Linked DNA regions of Homo sapiens: region 1 is linked to region 2. Evidence: fine-mapped expression QTL. A gene starts in region 2. The other region holds a variant in brackets. All regions are shown on one strand. Distances are from middle to middle.

Region 1 (4,515 bases), 350 kb after region 2:
GCAACTTTTAAACATTTTTTGGACCATCACTTGAGGTCAGGAGTTCAAGACCAGCCTGACCAACATGGTGAAACCCTGTCTCTATTAAGAATACAAAATTACGGTGTCTCATGCCTGTAATTCCAGCACTTTGGGAGGCTGAGGTGGGCGGATCATGAGGTCAGGAGATCGAGACCATCCTGGCTAACATGGTGAAACCATGTCTCTACTAAAAATACAAAAAACAAAATTAGCCGGGTGTGGTGGCGGGCGCCTGTAGTCCCAGCTATTCGGGAGGCTGAGGCAGGAGAATGGCGTGAACCCGGGAGGCAGAGCTTGCAGTGAGCTGAGATCGGGCCACTGCACTCCAGCCTGGGTGACAGAGCAAGACTCCGTCTCAACAAAAACAAAAACAAAAACAGAAAAAAAAAAAGAAAAAGAATACAAAATTAGGCCAGGTGCGGTGGCTCACGCCTATAATCCCAGCACTTTGAGGCCGAGATGGGCGGATCATGAGGTCAAGAGATTAAAACCATCCTGGCCAAAATGGTGAAACCCTGTCTCTACTAAAAATACAAAAATTAGCTGGGTGTGGCGGCACACTCCTGTAGTCCCTGCTACTCGGGAGGCTGAGGCAGGAGAATCCCTTGAACCCAGGAGGCTGAAGTTGCAGTGAACCCAGATCGCGGCACTGCACTCCAGCCTGGGTGACAGAGCCAGACTCCATCAAAACAAAACAAAACAAAAAAACCTACAGTTATTTGTCAAGCAAATAATATACCCCCAAAAAAAGAACAGCTCTTTGTGAAGCGAATAATGTATCAAAATTTTACTGTTTACTATATGCCAATGATGAAATTATTGCTTTTCAGCTCAAAATCTGCCCTGCAGTACCTGCTCTGTGATAACGGAATCCTAGGCCCTTTAAGCATTTCTCTTTTGCAGTGAGTATGATGCTAAACTTTGTCACAAGGTGTTGGAGGAACAATGCAGGTGGAAGGGAGCTTCTCTTTCCGGTTTGGTGAGCTTTTTTTCTTGCTCCTGCACCATGGGCCATCAGTGATTAATATATGTTGGGGTGTCTTGGGGCTTCTCTGCCCTAGTGGTGCGGCCAGGACATGTAGTCCCTCAGTGACTTTGCAGCCTTAGCTTGGCGACCACTTTGCTGCAGGCTTCCCAACACGCATAGGGCACTCCAGGCCTTATGCCCTCAGTGGTAACCTGACTTCCTGATGGTCATTTCCTGTCACTCTCCTGAAGCAAAAACCACATGCTCCAGGCCTTGCATCACAGCAGTGCCCTACCTCCGTCTGCAGCAGCCTTATCTTGTCTATGCTTGAGAAGGTGGTTGTTATTTCCTGCTTGCCCAGCTCTGGCCTCTGCAACCCACCCATCCAATGGGCTGCAACCTCACCTTCTCCAACCAAGTCTCAACTCCAACCTTGAGGGAGGTGGTGTCCCTTCCAAGTTTGCCCTTCCTAGGGTACTCTCCCTTAACCCGAGTGTACCCTTCAGGATTCTCTTTACATTTAAGGTTACTCCCTGTCATAGTTTAATGTTTTATAATAAACTTCCCCTGTCTAAAATACTGTGTGATTTCTGTCTCCTGATTGGACTTGAACCAATACGTAATACTAAGGTAAAAATCCTAAGAGCTAAATTAGGTTGCTACTAAATATGTTAGACCAGTGGTCTTTAGTGTACCTAAAAACTTTCCACAGAGTACACGAGAACCCGGCTGTAGGAGAATCAACCACTCAATCTTTAATTTCTATTTTTTCTTTATTATTATAATTTTTTTTTTTTTTAGATGGGGTCTTGCTCTATTGCCCAGGCTGGAGAGCAGTGGTGCGATCTCGGCTCACTGCAACCACCGCCTTTTGGGTTCAAGCGATTCTCCGGCCTCAGCCTCCCCAGTAGCTGGGATTACAGGTGTACGCCACCACACCCAGCTAATTTTGTATTTTTAATAGAGATGGGGTTTCACCATGTTAGCCATGCTGGTCTCGAACTTCTGACCTCACAATCCACCCACCTCAGCCTCCCAAAGTGCTGGGATTACAGGCATGAGCCAACGCGCCTCGCCTTATTATTAATTTTTGTAGAAATGTGGTCTCACCATGTTGCCCGGGCTACTCTTAACCTCCTGGGCTCAAGTGATCCTCCCACCTTGGCCTCCCAAAGTGT[C/T]GGGATTATAGGTGTGAACTACCATACCCAGCTCAATCTCTAATTTCTAAAAGTGATACATCTAAGAAGTGTCCTGAATTGCTCTTGCAGGTCTCTCTGTTCCCACAAATTCTCTCAGAACAGCTCCTACCCATCCTGAATTCTTCTTTGATACATCAATCAAAACACTCATTTTGCTAAGCCCTTTCCAGTGATTAATGAAATCACCATAAACTTGTCTTGGGCTTTTCTTTTCCTTTACTACACATTATTCAGTTAAGAGAGAAGAGTGCCTTTAGAGATTGGGTATTAGGGGCTGAGCACGGTGGCTCATGCCTGTAATCCCAGCACTTTGGGAGGCCAAGGCGGGCAGATCACATGAGGTCAGGAGTTTGAGACCAGCTTGGCCAACATGGTGAAACCCTGTCTCTACTAAAAATACAAAAATTAGCTGGGTGTGGTGGCGTGTGCCTGTGATACCAGCTACGCGGGGGGCTGAGGCAGGAGAATCGCCTGTACCTGGAAGGCAGAGGTTGCCATGAGCCGAGATCATGCCATTGCACTTCAGACTGGGCAACAAGGGTGAAACTCCTTCTCAAAAAACAAACAAACAAACAAACAAACAAACAAAAAATTAGCCAGGCATGGTGGCAGGTGCCTGTAATCCCAGCTACTCGGGAGGCTGAGCCACGAGAATCACTGGAACCCAGGAGGTGGAGGTTGCAGTGAGCCAAAACTGCACCACTGCACTCCAGCCTGGGTGGCACAGTGATACTCTGTCTCAAAAAAAAAAAAAAAAAAAAAGAAATTGGGTATTTGGGCAATTGGACAATTGATTTCAGGTATCTCATGGAAAGGAGTTGTCAGAGTGACTTTGCCTCGTTCACCTTGATTATCATCAAATAATGTCTACTTAAGAAAAAAACCTTACTTAGGAAAGAGAGCTTCAAACACTAAAAATAGCTTGTTCGTGTATTTAATTATATACAATATTTTTTCTAGCTATTCTCACTTCTCATTAACAATATGTCATCACTTAGAAAAGTTCCACTCAACATATACATGGGATCGGCACGATGGCTGACACCAGTAATTTGGGCACTTTGGGAGGTGGAGGTGGCCAGATCACTTGAGCCTGGGAGTTCAAGACCAGCCTGGGGAACATGGCAAAATCCCATCTCTACTAGAAATACAAAAATTAGCTGGGCATGGTAGCACATGCCTGTAGTCCCAGCTACTCATGAGGCTGAGATAGGAGGATCACCTGAGCCCAGGAAGTTGAAGTTGAAGCTGCAGTGAGCCATGATCATGCGTCTACACTCCAGCCTGAGCGAGACCTTGTCACAAAACAAACAAACTGTAACTATATATATATCAAGATGTTTACTGGGACTACCAAACACTTGAAGTGTACAAAACCCACAGAAAAAATTTAAGTAATTTCCTTTGGTTAAGGCATGAACTTTTATCAATTCATATAATGAAATATTTAATTCAAGTAGTCAGTCCCTTCTGATCTGATCCTATAAGATGTTGTAATTCTTTTTTTTTTTTGAGATGGAGTGGCTCAATCATGGCTCACTGCAACCTCCACCTCCCGGGTTCAAGCGATTCTCCTGCCTTAGCCTCATGAGTAGCTGGGATGACAGGTGCCTGCCACCATGCCTAGCTAATTTTTGTATTTTTAGTAGAGACAGGTTTTCACTATGTTGGCCAGGCTGGTCTTGAACTCCTGACCTCAGTTGATATACCCGCCTTGGCCTCCCAATGTGCTGTGATTACAGGCATGAGCTACCATGCCCGGCCAGATGTTATAACTTCTATCCCCATTAACAATACCAAAAAGTACGTGATAAACTGCCCTGCCAATTGGTTTGTCCAATATACTTTTCTCTTATATTAAATATGAAAGCAGGCTGGGCTTGGTGGCTCACTCCAGCCTGGGCAACAACTACATCTCAAAACTACATCTCAAAACAATGAGTTTTTTTTTTATGTAGAGCAAAACTACATCTCAAAAAAAAAAAAGAAAGCAATCATTGAGACTTATATAAATCAATAGATTTAGTTCTGATTTTTACAATAATTCTGAATCATTCTTAAAAGTCTAATACTAAAGTGGCTGGGCACGGTGGGTCACGCCTGTAATCCCAGCACTTTGGGAGGCCGAGGTGGGCGGATCACGGGGTCAGGAGATCAAGACCATCCTGGCTAACATGGTGAAACCCCATCTCTACTAAAAAAATACAAAAAATTAGCCGGGCGTACTGGCGGGCGCCTGTAGTCCCAGCTACTCGGGAGGCTGAGGGAGGAGAATGGCGTGAACCTGGGAGGCGGAGCTTGCAGTGAGCCGAGATCGTGCCACTGCAC
Region 2 (4,000 bases):
ATCCCACACCCCCAGATCTTGGCAGGAGCCTTTTCAGGACTAAGATAACGTGTGGCAGGGGAGGAAGAGGGGGCCTTTCCTCACCTGGAGAAGCCTTTCCCACAGCTCTGGCAGATGTAAGGCTTGCCCACGGACCCATCATGGGACCGCACATGGTAGGACATGCGGTCTTTTCTCTTGAACCGCAACCCACACACAGGGCAGGAGTAGGGCTTCTCCCCAGAGTGGGACAGCTTGTGCCGGTTAAGATGATACACATCACGGAAGATCTTGCCGCAGATCTCACAAGCCACCTGCTTCCTGGTCCGGCTCCTCTTTCGGGGGCCGTCGGGGTCTTCAGAGATGGGTAGCCCATTCTCACCCAGCCTCGGAGGAGGAAGGTCGATGTAGCCCAGCTGGAGGCTGGTGACACCGTGCTGGGCCTCGTGCTGCCGGAGCCGGTTGGCATCAGTGAACACCTTACCACATAGACCGCATGGAAGGATGCCTGCCTCCCTCAGGCCCCCTGGGGACCCAAACATTGAGTCCAGCAGGTTGGCCTTCCTTGGGCGGCCCCGGCCTCGCTTGCCAGTCAGGGGAGGGGCACTGGATGCCACACTGGGGAATGGGGAAGTCAGCAGTTGGGGGGATAGGGGTCCAGCCACCATGGGCAAGCGGTCCACCCCAGGTAACACAGGCAAAGAGGCTTGGCCTGCAATGGCTGCACCAGCCGCCCGAGCTGCCTCCTCCTCTGGCTGCATGCTGCCGGCGATGCCATTGCTGTTGGCTGCCAAGGCTGCCCCGTTGGTCATGTCCAAAGGGAAGCCCAAGTCCGAGGTCCCAGGGGGGCGAAAGAGCATTATATCGGCGCGGGCAGGGGGTACCAGGATCTGTACGTTGGACTGTTTGATGACTTCCTGGCAGATCTCGATAACCGACCTCATCAGCAGGAACTTGGCGGCCGTCATGAGTTCGGGAAAGCTCTCCAAGCGCACCACGATGCGGGAAGTGTAGGCGAAGTCCAGAATGTCCCCAAATACCTTGGAGCTGATAGTGTGCATCTCCAGCTCCCGGCTGCCCCCGGCCCCGCCGCCTGGTGCTGCCGTCGCGCCCCCTACATCAGCCGGACCCCCGTCCGCAGCTCCGCCGTCGCCCAACTGGGCGCTGAACACCGACTCAAAGTACTCGCTGCAGGCGGCCAGCACGGCGCGGTGCGCTGGGAAGCTCTCGTCGCCTACCCGCAAGAGCACGTCGCAGAAGCGCCCGCCGTTTTTGCGCTGCTGGTTCAGGTTGTGCAGCATCTCCGTGCTGTGTCTGCTCACCTGGTATGTGTAGCAGCCAGACGGGCCGCACGAAGCGTCGTTCACCCGCTCCATGGCCGCCGCCCCCTCCCACTAGCCCGGCCGCTGCACCTGCCCGCCCCCTCCCTTCCCCTCAGCAGCGAGAAGCGGGGCGCAGCAGACGTGTCCACACTCCCCACACGTGCCGGCCCGAGGCTCTGTAGTCTCGCAGGTGCGCCGAGTGTACACGCCCCCAGCCCGGATCAGACTGTCTAGACTGCGGGGTGCACCACCCCCCACATAGCCAACCCCCGCCCTCGCTGGACTGCGCGCCACTCTCTCCTCTCCGCCCGCCCGCCTCCCCTTCCCGGTCTACCTTCCGGGGGGGTGCGCGAGCGAAGAGGTGCGCCCCTCCTGCAAACGCGCCTGCCACCTCCCCTCCCGCCCGCCAGGCGGCGCCGGCGCGCAGCCAAGAAGGGCACGCGCACGCGGGGAGGAGAAGGAGGGGTCCGCCGCGCAGGCGCGCGCGCGCGCCGCGGCTTTTCCCGGGCCCGCTGGGGGCGCGCGCTGCGTCCCCTGCAAAGCGCGAGCCGGGGCGGGGGCGCCGGAGCGGAGGAAACAAAAGGCGAAGGCGAAGGCGGCGGCGGCGGGGCGCGCACGGGGGCGGTGGCGCGGGCCGGGTCCCGGAGCCTGGAGGGCGGTGGCGGCGGCGGCGGCGGCTGGAGCGGGCGGGCGGCGGCGGCGGCAGAGTAGGCCCTTCCTCAGGCCGGGAGAAGGCGGCGGCGGAGCGGCGGCTGTGCGGCCCCGGGCTCCGTGTGTTCGGAGCGGAGGAAAGATGGCAGCGGCTGCACTTCCTCTTGCACTTTCACCCCTGGGGGGAGGAGAAGGAGGGGGCGATACCAACAACACCCCCCCTCTCGCTTGCAGAAAAAAAAGAAACGGCGAGCTCAGAGTGGGGGCCCCGGCGTCCCCGGCCTTGCACGTGCGCGCCCGGATGCCTAGCCCGGGCCGCCTGGCGCTGCAAACTTTACACTTTCTTTGTGCCGAGCGCCCCCCCCTCACCAAGACGAGGATGCACGTCCCCCCTTCCCTATTTATACACCCCCCCCCCGCAGTCCGCTCCCCCCGCTTCCTGCCCCCCCTCCCCATTCCCCAGATCCGCCAATGCTAGAGCAGCCTGAGCCCCCGTCCGGCCCCCGCCTCCCCACCCCGCCCGCGGGGCCGGGGGCTGCAGTCTCAGCCCCCCCGGACCAATGCAAACGAAGCGCCGAGCCAGCAAACCAGCTCCCACTGCCCCTCCCCTGCCCGCTGAGAGTGGCGGCTAGCAGGGTGGGGGGGCAGGAACTGAGGGGTGCGGATCCGGGCCCCCCAGCCTGCGAAGCGCACTCGCAGGTCGAGCGGGCGTCGTCCACCCTTCGGAGCCCCGCTTTCATGCGTGAAATTCCCAGAAGTCGCCTGCGACCGCCTCCCTGCTTCAAACACCAGAGAGGGCCCGGGGTCCTGGCCGGAGACAGGCCGAACCTCCGGAGCTGCTTCTGCACCCGGTACATTGATCGATCTGATGGGCTGCGCGCCCGGAAGAGCTGGAGAGATGAAGCCAGCGTCCAGCTTCTCCCCCAAACCACAGCACGCCGAGCTTTGTCCCCGGGGAGCGTGAAGTCACCAGCTCCGGGAGGCGACAATATGAGGGCGATGGACGGGGCAGGGACCCCCGGAAGCCCCAGCAATCCTCAGGGAAGTGGGGGTGCCGGAGGAGTCGGGGACACCCTCAGGCCTCTCCAAGCCCGGAGCATCCCCAGCGCCCGCAGCCCTGTGAGACGCCGGGTGCTCTGGTAATGGGCCCTGCCGCCAGGCCTCGGCGCTTTGTCCCCGGCCCGCCCGGGGATGCTACCACGCTAGAGTTGTACACCAAGGTTTGTCTTCCCAGGAAGCGCTGGCGGCTGCCTTTGGGCCGCCTGGCGCGGAGCCCCAGGCTGCAGGCGCCGCGTGTGCGGGCGGGAAGTTCCCACAGTTGCAAAGAGGCAGCGAAGTATGTGTTCCAAACTTTCCACGGTTCCAAACTGAGCGCTTCCATTAAGAGAAGCGGTGTGCGGGGGAAAAGCATTCTGGGTATTAGCATGCAAATGAACGGGCCCGGCTTCCAACTCCGCTCGGGATTCCCACCGCTGCGCGCCGAGCTCGCGCCCAGCCACGCGCGCCCTGAGGCTTCCGGGCGTTGCCCTGGCGGATGATCCGAGTTCAAAATCGAGACCTCTGCCTTCTGGTTTCGTGTCCTGGTGCTTAGTCACTTGGCCTCCCTGAGATTCAGTTAAACTGTTTCTTAACCTGTGCACAGGGACAGCAGCACCTGTCCTGCACACCTCCGCTCTAGGGCATAGTACATGCCAAACTCCTGTTGGAGAGAATGAATTAGAGGCATGAAGAAAGTTCCCTGGACACGAAGCCAGGAGATCTGTGTTCTAAGCCCAGACTCACTGTCACCTTAGGCTAGTGCCTCCCTCTCTGAGCCACAGCTTTCTTGGGCGGATTTTGGGAACTGGCACGTTTTATTTTTGAGAGAGCTGCTGGGAACATCCACAGAGAAAGAGAAAGGGGCCGGGCGCGGTGGCTCACGCCTGTTATCCCAGCACTTTGGGAGGCTGAGGCGGGCGGATCACCTGAGGTCGGGAGTTCGAGACCAGTCTGACCAACACGGAGAAACCCCATCTCTACTAAAAATACAAAACTAGGCCGGGCGCAGT

Alleles and levels. Positions count from the first base shown, and alleles are read on the strand shown. Sizes are in standard deviations (SD) of each study's normalised expression.
In carriers of allele T in region 1, the expression in liver of the gene that starts at base 2,099 in region 2 tends to be higher than with C alone (moderate effect, 0.42 SD a copy in GTEx).

What was found. PIP is the estimated chance that this variant, and not a neighbour inherited with it, causes the effect.
Region 1: its variant is the best candidate, but not a certain one, in a credible set for the expression of PATZ1 in liver (GTEx, PIP 0.59).

The regions. Positions count from the first base shown.
Region 1 is chr22:31,694,374-31,698,888 of GRCh38, forward strand. All of the region lies in intron 7 of PRR14L (proline rich 14 like), which reads right to left. Among named protein-coding and RNA genes, the nearest start is that of PISD, 34 kb to the left of the region's middle. RefSeq lists an enhancer at 664-1,165. The variant C/T (reference allele first, on the strand shown) is at 2,167.
Region 2 is chr22:31,344,248-31,348,247 of GRCh38, forward strand. It overlaps PATZ1 (POZ/BTB and AT hook containing zinc finger 1), which reads right to left and starts at 2,099. Exons shown (of 5, transcript NM_014323.3): 1 at 85-2,099. The coding sequence starts at 1,355. LINC01521 (long intergenic non-protein coding RNA 1521) reads left to right here and starts at 2,512. Exons shown (of 1, transcript NR_120386.1): 1 at 2,512-4,000. RefSeq lists an enhancer at 1-34 and silencers at 855-924, 1,475-1,894, 2,265-2,334, 2,385-2,604.